Regions from separate parts of the Homo sapiens genome. Here region 2 is linked to region 1. The links come from fine-mapping of genetic effects on gene expression. Tissue or cell type: monocytes after R848. Region 1 holds a variant in brackets; the other region holds the start of a gene. All regions are shown on one strand. Distances are between the middles of the regions.

Region 1 (8,100 bases):
ATGCCAGAGGGGCAGAGGGAGCTGTGGGTCCCATGAGGTCTGGTGTCTGAAGCCCATGCTGGGACAGGTGGGCTGTGCCAGGTGAGGTGGTTCAGGTCCTACCCTCTCTTTGCAGGGCTTGAGTCTGGGGGAGCCTGGCTGCCCAGAGGTGGCAGATGACATGAAGAAATAACCATGTAAGGGCTGGCTGTGTATGAGGTAAGGAGAAAGGAGATGGGGTTGGGGAGGAGGGGGACTCAGAGGAGGGAGGGAATGGAAGAGCAAACATCATGGCTTCCTCGTCTAGAGCAAGCATTGGGAAGGATGAATGCCAACTATGTTCCAGGAACTTCCACTGTTCTCACACACCCAGGTGAGTGGTGTTCAGGTGGGTGGCACCCAGGTGAGTGACATCCCAGTTGAGTGGCACCCAGGTGAGTAGCATCCAGGTGAGTGACACCTAGGTGAGTGACATTCAGGTTAGTGGCGTCTGTGTGAGTGGCATCATCCAGGTGAGTAGCTTCCAGGTGAGTGGCACCCAGGTGAGTGGCATTCGGGTGAGTGGCATTATCCAGGTGACACCTGGGTGAGTGGCATCCAGGTGAGTGATATCATCCAGGTAAGTGGCACCTAGGTGACATCCAGGTGAGTGACGACATCCAGGTGAGTGACATCATCCAGGTAAATGGCACCCAGGTGAGTAGCATTCAGGTGAGTGACACCCAGGCGAGTGGCATCCACGTGACTAGCATTGTCCAGGTGCATAACACCCAGGTGAGTGGCACCCAGTTGAGTGGTGCCCAAGTGAGTCACATCCAGGTAAGTGGGGTCCAGGTGGTGGCACCCAGGCGAGTGGTGCCCAGGTGAGTGACAGCCAGGTGAATGGTGTCCAGGTGAGTGGCATCACCCAGGTGAATGGTGTCCAGGTGAGTGGCATCCAGGTAAGTGGTGTCCAGGTGGTGGCACCCAGGTGAGTGGTGTCCAGGTGAGGGGCATCACCCAGGTGAATGGTGTCCAGGTGAGTGGCATCCAGGTGGGTGGTACCGTCGACGTGACAATAGCTAAAAATTATTGGGCTCATTGTGGACAGGCACTGTGCCGAGCTTGACATCACTGAACTCAGTTCATCCTCGCCAGGAGCTTGTGGGCCGTCCCTAGATCAGAATCCGAGGAGAAAGGACTTCCACACGGCAGCCAGCGAGCTGGAGGGCGGCCTCCTGCCACCACCAGGCTCCCTAACCCAGTCCTGGATATCTGTGAAAGAATGAGTGGATCCCCACAGGCCAGGTGGGCGGGGACGGAGGGCTATTGTTTCCTGGGACAAACGTGTGTGGGGAGCTGAGTGTTTCTCCTTTCTCAGCCCTGACTTCCCACAGCTATCCCCAAACACACTCGTTTACACTGAAGCACCAGGAGATCAGAACCTTCTGGAATCTTAATATGCGAGGACTCGGTGGAGAAGGCGGCACTGAAGAAGAGTCGTCCCTAGGCCAGGCTGGAGGGAAACTCAAGACGGCGGCCTGGCCCTCCTGGGTGGCGGAAGTGGGAGCAGCAGGAGCCCTGGCGGATCCGGGAGGCCAGAAGAGCGGAAGCTTCCTCCCCTCTCAGGTGCGTCTCAGCCTCTGCTGGCAGCGCTGTGCCCCACTCCCCGCCCCTGCATCTCCTAGCTCAGGAAATGAGCCCCCGGGTGTCACCCCCTGAATCTCCCAGCACGGCCTTAAGGCCCGCACAACCTTCAGTGTCTGGGGTCAGCCTGCAGCGGGTCAGGGGTTTGCTTCCTGCAGCCCAGGCTGAACCCCCTCTGCGTGGGGATGAGGAGGCTGAGCCCCCTCTGCGTGGGGATGAGGAGGCTGAGCCCTCTCTGCGTGGGGATGAGGAGGCTGAACCCTCTCTGCGTGGGGATGAGGAGGCTGAACCCTCTCTGCGTAGGGATCAAGGGGCTGAACCCTCTCTGCGTGGGACTGAGGAGGCTGAGCCCTCTCTGCGTGCGGATGAGGAGGCTGAGCCCTCTCTGCGTGGGGATGAGGAGGCTGAACCCCCTCTGCGTGGGGATGAGGAGGCTGAACCCCCTCTGCGTGGGGATGAGGAGGCTGAACCCCCTCTGCGTGGGGATGAGGAGGCTGAGCCCTCTCTGCGTGGGGATGAGGAGGCTGAGCCCTCTCTGCGTGGGGATGAGGAGGCTGAACCCCCTCTGCGTGGGGATGAGGAGGCTGAGCCCTCTCTGCGTGGGGATGAGGAGGCTGAGCCCCCTCTGCGTAGGGATCAAGGGGCTGAACCCTCTCTGCGTGGGACTGAGGAGGCTGAGCCCTCTCTGCGTGCGGATGAGGAGGTTGAACCCCCTCTGCGTGGGGATGAGGAGGCCGACCCCTCTCTGCGTGGGGATGAGGAGACCGAACCCTCTCTGCGTGGGGATGAAGGGGCTGAGCCCTCTCTGCGTGGGGATGAAGGGGCTGAGCACTCTTTGCGTGGGGATGAGGAGGCTGACTCCCCTGTTGCTGTTCCCTGTGGCTTGGGGGCCCAGGCTCCCCATGGAGGCCGAGGGCTTCCAGCCCAGCGGAGACTGGAATAGGTTCTGCTGTCCCCACAGGAGGAAGCAGACAGAAGATGAAAAGGGGTGGGAGACAGGCAGGGGAAGGGAAGGGAGAGAAAGAGGGAAAGCACAGAGCAGAAGGAGACCGGGAGGGAGGGACCCTGTGCTCAGATCCTACTCAAAGTTTGCAGACAACTCACTGCCGTCCACCCTTCCCTGAAAAGCTTTGCAAAGATGAGGGGGTTGGCTGGTTTCAGAGTAGAGGTTTATGAGGAAAGGGTGATAAAGGCTTTAACAGTCACCAGGTCCCAGGGTGTTCGCCCTTCATAAGCCTGTGTGCTGGGAGGGATGGCAAGTGGGCCAGAGGCCCTTTTGTCTCGGGAACACAGGCCCTTGGAAGTCTAGCAGGAAAAGGCGGCTCCCAGGAGACCATCTATTCACATTCATCGGAAATGGCAGCCACTGGCCCAGAGGCCGGGGAGGGTGGGTGGAGGGAGCAAGGGGCGGGGCAAGGATGAATCATTCATTCATTCATTCATTCATTAGGCCAGCAAATATTTCTTTAGCAGCTACAGTGCATTCCAGGCCCTGGTCTCTATGCGGGAGAAGCCAGCAAAGACCCTGTCCTCAGGAAGCTTCCATTTCAGTGCGGGAGGACCCACAATCCATGAGGCCCCGGGCCTGCGGGTGTCAAGTCCTGCGAAGGAAAATAAGGCAGGGAAACAGGCTGGAGACTGCGGGTGCTGCGTGATGTTGTTTAGGTAGGGCCTGAAGGGAGGGAGGGGTGGCCACTACTGGATCCCCAGATCTCCGCACTCCTGCAGAGACAAGAGGAGCCAGTGCAGAGATGGTGCCGTGGCCAGAGGTGCAGGGGCCATCCAGGGGCAGGCAGGAGGCCGGAGTGGACGCAGCGAGGGGGAGGGGCAGGTGGGATTGGCTCGGGGAGGCCTTGGGCCCTGTTAAGAGCCTCAGATTACACCTGGCTGAGTTGGAAGCTGTTGGAGGGTTCGGAGCAGGGCCGAGATGGGACCCAACTCAGGTGTTAAAGAATCACATTGGCTGCTGTGTTAGAACTGACCAGTGGCAGGCCAGGCGCTAGCAGGGAGGCGCGTTCTGGGCTACTGTGATGACCCAGGTGACAGAGGGTGGCACCAGGACCTGCACAGAAAGTAGAGAAGGTGGTAAAAAATAAATATACAAAGTATGCAAATATATGTATAGATATGTAATTACATATTAATTATATATAAAATCTAACATATGTATATTAATTATATAAAAAATTATATATGTAATTTGCAGAGAAACTTATTTTGTATTCCTTCCTAGACAGGGATCCTTGGGAGATACAGGTTTGTCCATTTTGGCCGAGAAAGAACAGCCCCTGACCCATAGCAATCCTCTTTCAGTAACTGTTGAAGAAACAAAAGCCATTTCTTAGCAGGAAGCTGAGACCCCAGAGGCTGAAATTTCACTCAGACCCAGGAGAGCCAGAGTCCGGAGAATCCCCCTGGTCTCCGCCCCTCAATCCCAAAGTGAGGGTCTTTCTCAGGGTCCCTGGAAGAGCTGGTGGGAAAGCGGTTTATGAGTTTCTGAGTGCCGTCCCTTGCTCTGGGCAATGTCCTCTGAGATAAGAGACTCTTAAAATGGAAAGGACAAGCCACTCAAGGCTCTCCTCCCGAAGAGATGGGAACCATCCCTTCCCCATCCCCGTCTTCCCTCCTCCCAGGCCCCCTCTGACCCAGGCCCCCTCTGTACCGGTTCCCCCGCTGTGTGCACCCAGCCTCCTCACAGTGGCCTTCACTGAGCCCCACCCTGGGTTAGGGGCAGTCAGGCCCTGGGAATTCACAGAAGATAAGGCGGTCCCTGCCCTGCTCATCCCAGCCCAGGAGTCTGGCAGACTCATCAAGTGAAACCATTTTCTGTGCCTTCTGCCTCTGTTTTGGGAACTTAATATGCATCATGATAAAAGTGACTGTGATAGCA[A/G]AACACCCTTTAAAACACCCTTTAAAGATTGCATGTTGAAATACAACAAAAATACAGACAAGTATGCAAATCACAGGCATGCAGCTTAGTGAATTTTTGTGAAATCATCCCTGCCCTGGAGCCAGCCCCTCAGCCCAGAGGCTCCGGTGCCCCTCCTGGCTGCCACTCCCACCTCCTGATAACGCCTGTGACGCCCCAGCCAATGAGGGAGGCAGAACTACTACGAGTGGTGTGGAATAACAGATTTATGACAGGGATTTAGACCCTCCGCAATTGTGGGAGGAACTAGGGGGGTTCAGAAGCAAGTTCCTCCCCAAGGAGGCTTCCAGAAACATCAGTGAGTGCAGCTTGCAGGGAAATCCAGAAAGCCGGCTGGCACGTGGAGAATGGGGACGGGAGGCAGTGGAGGGGTCTGCGGGGCACAGCTGCTTCTGTGACTGGTGGTCCCTGGGTCACTGGTGGTCAGTGAGGCTTACAGTTGGGGAGACAGGGAGAACAAGAGCAAGTTGTCATCAATCAGCACCTCCTTGCCTGTCTCTCCCCAGGACAGCCACAAGGACTTTCGGGGGTCGTGGCAGCTGCTCCACTTCCAACTTCCAGATCCCTCTCACTTTCCTCTTCCCACCAACTCCAACCTGGGACCAAGCAGGGGAAAGCAGCTGCAGCCCAGCTTGACGCCCCTGCAAATGGAGACCTGTGCACCTGGTTGTGAGCATTTTAAAGGGTGTCACACAGGGCATACCCTTCGGTGCCTGGATTCCTTTGGTAAGTGTTATATTAGGGAGACGCACCCTTGCTGTTGTGTGTGGCAAGATTTGTGCATTCTCATTTTTCCATGATATTCCTCTGCATACCTATCCCATAATTCACTGATCCATCCTAGTGTTGAAAAGCATTGAAGGAGTTTCTGGTCATTGGCTGTTACAAACAGTGATGCCCGAATGCTCTGGTGATGGTCCTTTTGTGGACGTGGACACATTTTTCTTGCAATTGTGCCTAAATGTGGAATCTCCAGGTGGGAGGCTGTGCTCATATTCAGCTTCAGTAGAGAGTTCGTGTCCCATGGGAGCTGCACCCCCGATTATGTTTCCTGTTGCAAGCCCTTTTTACTCCTGGTCTTGGGTTCAAATGTTGATTCCCTTCCTTTCTAGCCATTTGACCTGGAACCATCTAGGTAACCATGCAGAGCAACAATTTCCTGCTTATCTGTAAAATAGGGATAAGAATAGTACCTCCCACCCGGGTCCCTGTAAGGAAATGCGGCAGTCCAGGAAAATTGCTTAGAATAGTGACTGTCACGTACAAATTCTCAACATATTAGGTGTTATTACTCTTTTTATTTATAATAATAATGATGGCCTTATCAAATTATTTGGAGGCAATCTGACTTTATCTGTAATTTGCATAGATGAAAGGGCAAAGCCTTGAACCTAAGTCATCTTCGAGTCCTCAGCACTTCACCCAGAGCCTGGCACACAGTAGGAGCACAGAAAGGTTTGTTGCATGGAATTAAGCACTCACGCTGGAGAGTGGATGTTCTTTGCTCAGTGCACTCAATCCCTCCCACAGCACAGCACACACCACAAGGATCGTGCCCCACAGACACATGGGGAAGACTGGGTGCAGAGTCTTAATCTTGACTCCCGTTTGCTGAGGCTCTCAATGTCTCAGGAAACCCTTAGATAACCTCATTTAATCCTCACAACAACCCGGCAAGGTGGGCTATGGACCCCCGGTTGATGGATGACGAACCCCCCCATCCCCTGTCCCCCAGGTTTACATCCAGCAGGAGTTGGCCCTGAGCTCTGAGTCCAGATCATTGCTCTTGGCTGAAGCAGCCTGTCTACTCACAAAGATGAGCATGGTCCCTGCCACGAGGAAACTCGTGGTCCTGTGGACTGCGGTGTGGAGGGAAAGCTTGGGATTCTGAGCCTGATAATGCACCATTACATCCCCACTCACTCGGGCTGTGTGAACCCAGCAAGTCACAGGATCACTGGGTGGTGAAAGAAAGAAACACTCACAGAAGCGTCTGTGCTTGGAGAGCCATCTGGTCCGTCATTGTGACTGCTGCTCTCATTGCTATCATGGGTGTCACCATTGCCATCACTCAAGGACTTCTCTCCAGGCCCCGAAGCCAAGCTGGTGCCTGGTTCCTCTGGGTTGGGAGAGGGGCTGGGCATGGACAGGAGGAGGGAAAAGGGACCTGTGCTAGCAGGTGATGCCATCCAAGACATCTGCATCCTAATCCCTGGAACCTGGGATTCCACTAGGTGCCATGGCAAAGAGGGATTAAGGTGGCAGGTGGAGTGAAGGTTGCTAATCAGCCGACCTTAAAGTAGGGAGATGATCCTGAATGAGACAAAAGAGAGAACCAGTCATGGTGTCATGAGAAGGACTCAAAATGCAACTGCTGACTTTGAAGATTAAGGGGCTACAAACCAAGGAACGTGGTAGTCTCTGGAAAAGACAAGGAATAGACGCTGCGTTGGGGCCACCAGAAGGAACCAGCCCTGTCAACACCCTAATTTTAGCCCAGTGAGGCCTGTGCTGGACTTCTGACCTCCAGAACTGTAAACTAATAAATGTGTGTTGTTTCTGCCACTAGATTTGTGGGAATTTGTTAGGGCAGGCATAAGAAACTGATACTGTGGTATTCCCTGCTGTGTCCCCAGGACCTCGTGGCCAGTAGGCTCACAAAAAATATCTATTTAATGGACAAACATCGTGAAGGAAATGCTTTTCTGTGAGCCTACCGTGTGCCAGTTTTTTGACACTGTGTGAGTTGTCAGATTCAGCAAATAAAAATACAGAATGCCCAGGTAGAGTTGAATTTTAGATAAACAACACACCACATTTATAAAAGTATGTTTCATGCTATTGTAAGAAACGTTTATTATTACTTGAAATGCAGATGTACCTGGGCGTCCTTATTTCGTCAGGCAACCCGTGCGGTCCCTTCCCAGATAACCCAGCAAGCCTCAATCCGTAGCCAGAAGGGAGAGCGGAAGTTCGACAGCAGACCCCATGCCCTTGCTTCCGCCCTGATGCACCCTGCAACTTCCCAAAGTGGTGGGTAATGAGCCAAACACCTCATCAAAGGGTCCTCCATGGGACAGGCAGGATGCACCACCTCCCATCAGGTCCCTAGATGCTTGGAGGAAGCACATTTGAGGGGCATCTTCCTTGAGCTAAAGCTGAGACCATCCGATCTCTGATGATTCTACGGGGCAAAGCCCTCTCCGCTCCTTCCAGAGGAACGGAAAGGATTCAAGTGGGATCCACGGTCAGATAGCGAGGGCCTGGGGCAGGCCTTGGTCGCGGGTGTCTTCCTGCGGAGTCGGCATTCCCCTGAGCGAGGGCCTGAGGAAATCTGCTAAGGAAGCAAGAGGCCAAGGGAAGTCCTTCCTTCAGAGGGTGGGAGTGCTCGCGGGAGGGAAAGCCACCAGCATGCAACATGAGACAGAATCTTGCCTTCCTATTTCAGGGAAAATGCTACAAAAATAGGGTCCATGTGGAATTCTCTTTCCCCTACGGCACTCTGCTGGAGGAGGGGCTGGTCAGTTCCTGAGGTTCAGCGACCCCCTGGCTTGGATGGACTTTCG
Region 2 (8,100 bases), 180 kb before region 1:
ACCTGGCCCACCAAGCGCCCTTTTGCCTCATTTAGATTTTGCTTGATTTTCTATCGGGGAAAACCAAGAACAAGGCACCAAAAAGCCAAAACAAAACAAGACAAACCAACAACTACAAAAAAACCTTAAAGTTGATTCACGATTTATAACAGCTACAGCAAGAGAACAAGAAAGTCGGAAACCCAAAGTAAAACTCTCATTGGTCTTGTAGTGGCAAAAAAATATATATTATGTACATGGACACGTATACATATATGTACATATATGTATATACATATATATGTATATCCATATGTATGTGCACATATATGGTTTAATTGGTGTTCCCTAGGGGAAGGAGGTCTATAGTGTTCTTTAAAAGTTTATTTCTTTAAAACGATCAATGACATTTAGAGGGGCAAAGGGCTCTTCTTAAAAAACAGAAGCCAAGAAAAATAGTTCCTCTTGTCCAGCGTTTACTTCAAAGTGGAATGAAGAGTGAAAAGAGGAGGATTTGCCAAAAAAGAAAAAAGTACTCAGAATCACCCAGATTGTAAATTTTTAAGCGTCTAGAGATCCAAAGCCTGTTTTTTCTTTTTTCCCCCCTCTATCTTTGGGAGTCTGGAAGGTATTCTACAATCTCAGTCCCAATAAAATACTCATGCAATTTTATTTCTAGTTGATACAATTTTAAAGGCCATGTACAAATGTTATACATTTTTATTTTTGTTCTTTTTTTAGGAAAAAATACACAAAAGGCAAAACATCCTCAAATGGTCCTTTTATACAGTGCAGAAGGAAATTTCAAATTTCAAATACGTGTCACAAATGCTGCACTCTAGCAGCCAAAATACAAAAAAAAAAAAGGAGGGTAGTCCTTCATATTATATATATATTTATATAAAACATATGGAAATTTGTTTTTACACAGATCGGTCTTTGTTTCAAATTTACAATGGATATCTAAAAAAAATTCTACACGGCAAATATTGCCAACAAAGTTACACCATTAATACTGATAAACGGAGGAGCCTACGCGGTGTTTTGATTATTAGGGAAAGAAAGTAGAATAAATAAACAGGAGCCTTGCTATAGTTTTTAAAAGTGCCTTAACCTTTCTGCGTCCCCGCAATCCTGAATCCGCGCGGTCACCGGGCCGTCCTAGTCCCTGCGTCGCGCTGTGTTCGGCTCGTTCTCGGACCAGAAAGTTTACAGTAGAGGTTGGGAGACAGAAAAATACCCACTGAAAAAGTCTAAATAAAATTCAAGACAAAACATAACAGAAGAGGCTGAAGCGAAGGAAGAGGAGGAACATGGAAGGGGACGGAGGCGGACGCCCGGACGGCCGCTTGCTTCGTGGCTCCTTTGACTTTCTGTTTAAAGACGGACAGTGGCTTCCGAAATGCAAGTTGTTCGCACAAAGATCCACCTGTGGTCCACGGAGGAGACTTCGGAGGTGGGGAGGGAGATCGGGAGGGAGATCTGAGCTCTTGTCACTTCCCGCTCCCTGCAAAAGACGGCTCTAAAGGGAGACTTGCGCATTCCAAGACATTCTTTCAAAAAAAAAATAAAAAATAAAAAGATAAATACTCAACCAAAAAATAAAAGTATTTGATAATGATTGGTCTCACATGTTTGCTTTTCTTCTAAAAATTTTCCCCCACTTCTGCCATTGGCCGGAAGGAGGGGGGACCTCAGCAGAATTCCTGTGTGGGTGCGGGGGCTTTCCCCTGCACAGCACCGTCTCAGGCGGGTTCAACAGGATCAAAAACTTTTATTTACCGATGGCTGCAGTCAGATCAGACCCACCACTAACATTTCTTAACAATTTTGAAGGAGTGAGGAAGGAGGTGCCAACCGCAGCGCTGTGTCTTTGCATTGGGGACTCCTTGCCAAAAACTCCGGTTGGGGAGAGGTGGAACCCTTTTCTTCTGCCGACGGTTATACCTCGAGAAGAAAGCAGTTTCTTGTGCCGGTCCAGGGTCCCTGTGACCCGCCTGCCTGCACCAGGAGGGCCTGCGGCGGCAGCCTCACATCACGCAAGGCTTGATGTCTTGGTAGGTGACCTGCTGGTGGTAGTAGGAGCCCCCGCCGGCCGAGTGCATGGAAGAGGACGCCATGGCGTTGAAAGAGAAGACAAACTCCTTTCGGTCACACATGCTGGGCGACTGCGAGTGATACCGCGGGATGCCTGCAAGGCGAGGCGACAGGAGGGGTTGGGGGAGCAGAAGAGTTAGCCACGGTGGCTCAGAGTTCAGGCAGAGGAGCAGTGCTCCCGTGGGGCGCACAGGGCCTGTCAGCCTGGCTCCAGAGCACGGCCGCCTCCCCGCTCTCCTCCCCGAGTCCCGGCCTTCCAGCTGCGCACCCAAGGAAAAGACTCCAGAACACTTGCCACGGCCTGCCTGCCTGCCTGCCTGCCTGCCTGCTGCGTGCCTGTCCAGCCTCGGACACCGTGCAGGGGCCCAGGGCTTCCAGAGCCATAGGGGAAGTGGTGAGGGAGACCAAGTGGAGGGCCCCTAACGCCCATGGCCGTCACCGCCAGGGCAGCCACCACCACCCCCAACCTCAGAGGCTACGACTGCCGGCGGGGTTGAAGGAGAGGCCAGTGCAGGGCCAGCGCCGGGCCAGCAGCAGGGGTGAGAAGAAGCTTCTCCAGAGAACAGGCCCCGGAGCCGGGGAGTCCCCCGCAGAGAGGCTGCCTAAGGCCTCCAGGCCTGGCTCCTGCCTCCTGGGGCTGCTGACAGCTGACCCTGGACTGGCCCTGGCAAGCTCACTCCAGCTTTTTCCAGAGCTGGGCCTGCAGGCTGCGGGGGGCCTGGGGCAGAATCAGGAGGCGAGGCTGCTGCATCTCCCTTGGCAGATGCTTCTGCATGTTCGGGGTATTGGGGTATCAGGGGTGTTGGGGGTGTGGGGACCTGAAAACTTGGATCCTAAAAAACAAGGAGCCCCCATGGCCCGGTCTGCAGCTCTGACCCTCCGGGGCCTGGCCACGGCACCCTCCTGCCTCAGTCACCACAAAATGCCCCTGGACTCAGCTGTGGGTCTGCCAGGTCTGGTCCCCTGAAAGGCCGGGGCTGAGCCTCTGAGCGCTGGCCCAGCGGCTTTGGGCCTAACACCTTCCGTTCCGCCCAGCCCCAGGCAGAGGCAGCCCTCCAGGCAGCCTGAGGGCCACCACCAGGGAGGGACAGCCATCTGGCCAGCGCTGGGAGCCTTGGGTCCATCCCAGGATCTTTCCAAGCTGTGAGGGGACTTAAGGGACACAAAAGGACTTAGGGCACTGGGGTCTGGGACATCTGGCTCAGGACCAGCCTACCTGGTCAGGCCTGGAGCAGCTGGCAGCTGGAGTTCGAACAGAAAGAGAAACAGATTGGCCCAAACTAGGGTCAAGAGCGGTAGTCACTCTTCGAAGGGGGAGAGGTGGGGCCAAGAGACACCTTGGGGAGCTGGTGCCTCCCCTCAGCCTTGGGGTTCCGACCACAGAAGTGGAGGGGCTCGCCCCAGCTGGGTCCCGCTGCCACTCAGACTCGACTTCCCGGGGACCAGGGCGCCCTCGGCCTCCCCACTCACCTTGCAGCTCGGCTGGGGCGTTGTGGCTGTTCTGGTGCAGATACGGCTGCTCCAGGGAGTGCGTGGAGAGGCTGCCGGACAGGGGGTTGGCCGCGGGGTTACAGGGGGACAGGGGCTGCTGCTTGATATAAGAGGCGCCGCTGTTGAGCGCCGCGGACGCCGAGGGCGGCCAGGCCGCCGCCGAGCCCGAGTAGACGGCGTGCGGCTCCATGACCCCACCGGCGCCGGTGGGCAGCAGCGGGGAGGCGGGCACCGAGCTGTCGTGGTGCGGGTACTCGCCGGCCGCCGCGCCGCCGCAGCCGCCCATGTACGAGTGGCCGCCGTTGGAAGGCAGGTGGGGCACCGAGTGGCTGGGCAGGGCCATGCCGTCCACGTTGCCCGGCAAGTGGCCGTTCATCATGCCCAGGCCGCCCTCCAGCGCCAGGCTGTTGGGCGGGCACGAGAGGCCGCCGGCCGAGCCCTGGAAGCCGTAGGTGTCCGGGAGGTGGTTGAAGCCGAGCCCGTTCATCATGCTGTACATGGGCTTGAGCGCCTGGCATTTCCTTCGGAAGCCGCGCGGCCGCCGCCGAAAGGAGCCCTCCTCGAACATGAACTCGCTGGCCGGGTCGATGGTCCAGTAGTGGCCCTTGCCGGGCCGCCCAAGGCCCTTGGGTAGCTTGATGAAGCACTCGTTGAGCGAGAGGTTGTGGCGCACGGAGTTCTTCCAGCCCTGGTAGGAGCCCCGGAAGAAGGGGAAGCGGCTCTGCAGGAACTGGTAGATCTCGCTCAGCGTCAGGCGCTTGGTGGGTGAACTCTGGATGGCCATGACGATGAGCGCGATGTAGGAATAGGGCGGCTTCTCCGGGCGCCGGATGCCGGCGTTGGTCTTCTTGGCCTTGGACGGGCCGGACGACGCGGGGTCCATGGCCGCGCCGCCTCCCCCGCCGCCGCCGCCGCCGCCGCCGTGCGGTGGCTGCTGCTTCTCGGGCGCCGAAGACATCGGGTGGCTGCTGCCGCCGCCGCCGCTGCCGCCGCTGCTCTGCGCCGCGGACGGGCCGGGAGGAGGAGGAGGAGGAGGAGGAAGAGGACGACGGGGGGGAGGAGGGCGAAGGGGAGGGGGCTGCGCGCGCGGGGCTGGCTGCACCTCTGCCGTCATCGGCGGCCACTTCTCCCGAGCGAGCCGCGGCGCGCCCGCCCCCGCGCTCCCGCCCGCCCTCCCCGAGGAGCTGCTGGATCCGCCGGCGGTTGGCTCAGAGCCCCTCTCTCTCCAACTCCCGCCTCCCCCACCTCTCTCCTCCCTCTTTCTTTCTCGCCCTCCCACAAGGAAAGGAGCCGAGCTGAGGCCGAGGGCAGCCCGGGCGAAGGCCGTGAGGAAGCTACCCCCGCCGGTATTTTTTGGGGGGAGGCACCACCTCCAGGTCTTACGGCCGTGCGCCCCAGCCGGGAGCAGCCCTGAGTCCCCGCCGCCCGCGGCGCTCGGCTCCGAGATTCCGGGCGAGGCAGCCTTCACTCCATCTCCGCTCGGCTGCGTCTCGCGGGTCGGCCTAAGACCCTCCCGGAGTTCCCTCCCTCCGTCCCTGCCCCCCTCGGGCCCCCGCGTTGGTGGGCGCTTAAAGAGCCCCCACTCTCGCCGCCCCGCGGCCGCCAGCAGAATCCGCCCCGCCTCCACCAACCTGGCGAGCAAGTGTTAATGCGCCCTCCGCCCGCGGTTCAGCCCCGGTGCGCGCTGGACCCCGCCTTCCCCGCCCGGGCGGCGCGGCGGGAAACGCTCCCTGGGCCGGGGCCTTCCCCGACGCGCACAGCCCTGTAGCAAATCGCAAGTGCGGCGGCCTCCCGGTCGTGACCATCGCAGGCACAGCCGGCTCGACTCCGGTCCTCGCGGCCGGCCGGCTAAGTTCCCGCGAGGGACCGCCTACCCACTCTCCCCGCCCCGGGAAGAACTGCGCCGCTCCCGGGATTTTTCGGACTCGCCCAGCAGCTTGCGAGCGGGCGGGCAGCCGCCGGGGCAGAGCGCAGGCGGAAAACGAAAGCGCAGCACGAGTCGCGGCCGCTTTGTCTCGGGCGCCGCGGGCCTGACGGGGGCGAGTGAGAACCCGCTGGCCCAGAGGCGACCCAGACCGCACAGGCCCCTGAATAAGCGGCGTGCTCAGTCACTCACCCGTGCGCGCACACCCTCGCGCTCTTGTCCACACATTAGCACACACATACATGTCTTGATGCACATGCAAACCCGGTAAATTACGCAAACAGACGTGTAAACACACCCATGCGTGTGTGCACACTCATATGCAGAGGGCGCTCAGGCATGTGCGCACCCACTAATGCACTCGTTGACACGGAAGCTTAAGGCCCACAGGAGCTTAAGTTCGCACTCACTCCCACTCACGCGTACACACGCCACGCTCGGATCTGAACTCACACGTAGTTCAGTTGCCCTCCCCCACCCCCAACACACACTGAAAACCCGCCTATTTGGCCCCGCGGCCCCGTTTTCAAAGCGCAGGTTCCGATTTCCCGAGAGATGGCAAAGGCCCTGGCAGGAAGTTTACAGGGTTTAACGTAAACAAGTTCTGGGGGATTCTTTAATAATAATAATAGAGAATTCCGCGTGCGCAGGGCGGGAGGGGGGAGTTGGCCTAATGCCCCTGTGGGCTCGGCCTGCCGCCGCCGCGGGGCCTCTGACACTGCGCGCCAGGCCAGGTTCCTGAGAGCAGACAGCGCGGGCTGGGAGCGCCGGCAAGGGCGGCCCTCGCGCACCTGGCTGCCAGCCCGCAGGGGGCTCGCACGCAGACCTGCCCTTGCCACCTCAGCGCTCGGGTGCGGGCTGGGGGCGGTGGAGCCACGAAAGGTGGTGCCGAGAGCGGAGCGCAGGACAGCGCAGGAGCCCCGGCGCATCGCGGCGCGCACAGACCCAGGTGAGTGCTGCTCTCGCAGCGACTGCTGGCCGGGCGCGGCCTCTCCCTCCAGGGTTCCGAGTTGAGAAGAGGGGGGCGAGGGGTGTTTTCGCGGGTCATCGCGAAGAGCCTAGAGGCCAAGCCCCAGCGCGAGCTGGGGCGAGAGGCGTGTGCCGGGCTCGCAGCACGGCCCGCGGCGCGGCGCGTTCAAAGCCTACCCGCCTCTCGGTTTTCTCCGGACTCCTTGTCTCCCGCTAACTACCCGCCCCCACCTTCCTGGCTCGGACGCCTTCATTTTCGGCGGGAGACGCCTGTCGCCTTCGGGGCGCCTGGCACGTCGGTGAGAGGAGCTGGGGGGCTCGCCGGCGCAGCCTGCCGGGCAGTCGCCGCCTCCTCCGCCAGATCTGCGCTCGCGGGAGAAGAGAGCCGCCTTCCCGCGCTGCCCTTCCGCTGGCCTCTCTGGGTCTCCGCGTGCAGACAGCCTGGCCCGCCTAGGGAAAGAATGAGTGTGGGACGTGACCCGTAGTGTGTGGTTGTGCATTCACGCAGGTAAACGCTCTCTGGCAGACCCGCTACCACTTCACACAACCAGCTCAGCCTCCGCGCACACAGACACGCTCCGCACCGCCCACGGCCTCAAACACCCTTCCCAGCGACCCTCACACAGCTCAGGCGCTCCCAACCCTTGGACCAACACACAGGCCTGCCCAACGGGGAGGGCACACTTTGGTTTAAGTGCACACTTCATGCACGCCCACATGTTCTCCACTGCGCGTTCGCCCACGCATAGCCAGGCGCCACGCGCAAATAATCATAGGTACCGCCGCTCCATACGTGCGCACGCGTCCACGAACACAAGCATTCTCACATTCTCTCCCAACTTTTGTGTGTGTGTGTGTGGCAAATGGCAGTTGCAGATGAGGAGACCCTGGCCTCCGGAGGAAAGTTCTGTTCCCAGGAAGGGGTCGCTACTGCCGACTGCCAGAGCACATCTGGCCCTTAGCAGAGGTGAGCAGAGAAGGCTGCACAGCTCTTAAGCCAGCTAGGGGTGCAGGGCGCACGCTGCGGCTCGCTGAAAGTGGAAATAGCATCTCCCTTCCCCTCGCCCCTCCCCCACTCATGGGGCGCCTTCAAAGTGAGCGGGTCCCTAGAGCATGAAGTTGGGGAGCCCTTTCCCAGCAGACTCCTTCACTCCTGGGCCCTCTTCAGTTGGGGAAGGGAAGCCGCAGGTCCCATCGTTGGCTAACCCGGAGATCCATTTTTCCCTCCTTTCCACCCTTCTTTCTGCCCTTTCACCGGCTCTGATAGCAAACCAGACCTTACAGAACAGCCAGTCACGGAGCCCAGCGAAAGAGCCGGCCCAGTAGGCCTGGGAGTCTCAGGAAGGCCAAAGATGGAGGCTCTCCCCAACTGCTCATCTCTACTGCTGGGTGTGTGTAGAAGTGGGGGCGTGAGAGAGGAGGCGAATGAGCTCCCAGCTCTGTAATTTGGAGGGGACCCCCTGAATTCTGGGGAAAACCACAGCCGTAGCAAGAAGGGCTTTCCTTCATGCTCAGAGACTTCATTCTCAGCTCTTACAATGTCCCTGAGAGGTCTCCCTTGATCCTACATTTTTAGGGTGGAGAAACTGAGGCTCAGCATGGACTTGAATCTCTTATCAGCCAGCACTGAGAGGTGAACA

The links. PIP is the estimated chance that this variant, and not a neighbour inherited with it, causes the effect.
Region 2: it holds the start of FOXF1, and the variant in region 1 is fine-mapped to the expression of FOXF1 in monocytes after R848 (Quach 2016, PIP 0.95).

The regions. Positions count from the first base shown.
Region 1 is chr16:86,330,848-86,338,947 of GRCh38, reverse strand. LINC00917 (long intergenic non-protein coding RNA 917) reads left to right here. Exons shown (of 7, transcript NR_024406.1): 2 at 116-198; 3 at 287-1,266; 4 at 1,356-1,587; 5 at 5,041-5,260; 6 at 5,904-5,989; 7 at 6,270-7,098. Among named protein-coding and RNA genes, the nearest start is that of LINC00917, 11 kb to the left of the region's middle. RefSeq lists an enhancer at 675-1,606 and a silencer at 1,431-1,725. The variant A/G (reference allele first, on the strand shown) is at 4,496.
Region 2 is chr16:86,506,995-86,515,094 of GRCh38, reverse strand. It overlaps FOXF1 (forkhead box F1), which reads right to left and starts at 4,568. Exons shown (of 2, transcript NM_001451.3): 1 at 3,547-4,568; 2 at 1-2,170. The coding sequence starts at 4,525. The coding sequence ends at 2,010. It overlaps FENDRR (FOXF1 adjacent non-coding developmental regulatory RNA), which reads left to right and starts at 6,235. Exons shown (of 4, transcript NR_033925.1): 1 at 6,235-6,440. RefSeq lists an enhancer at 2,309-3,075.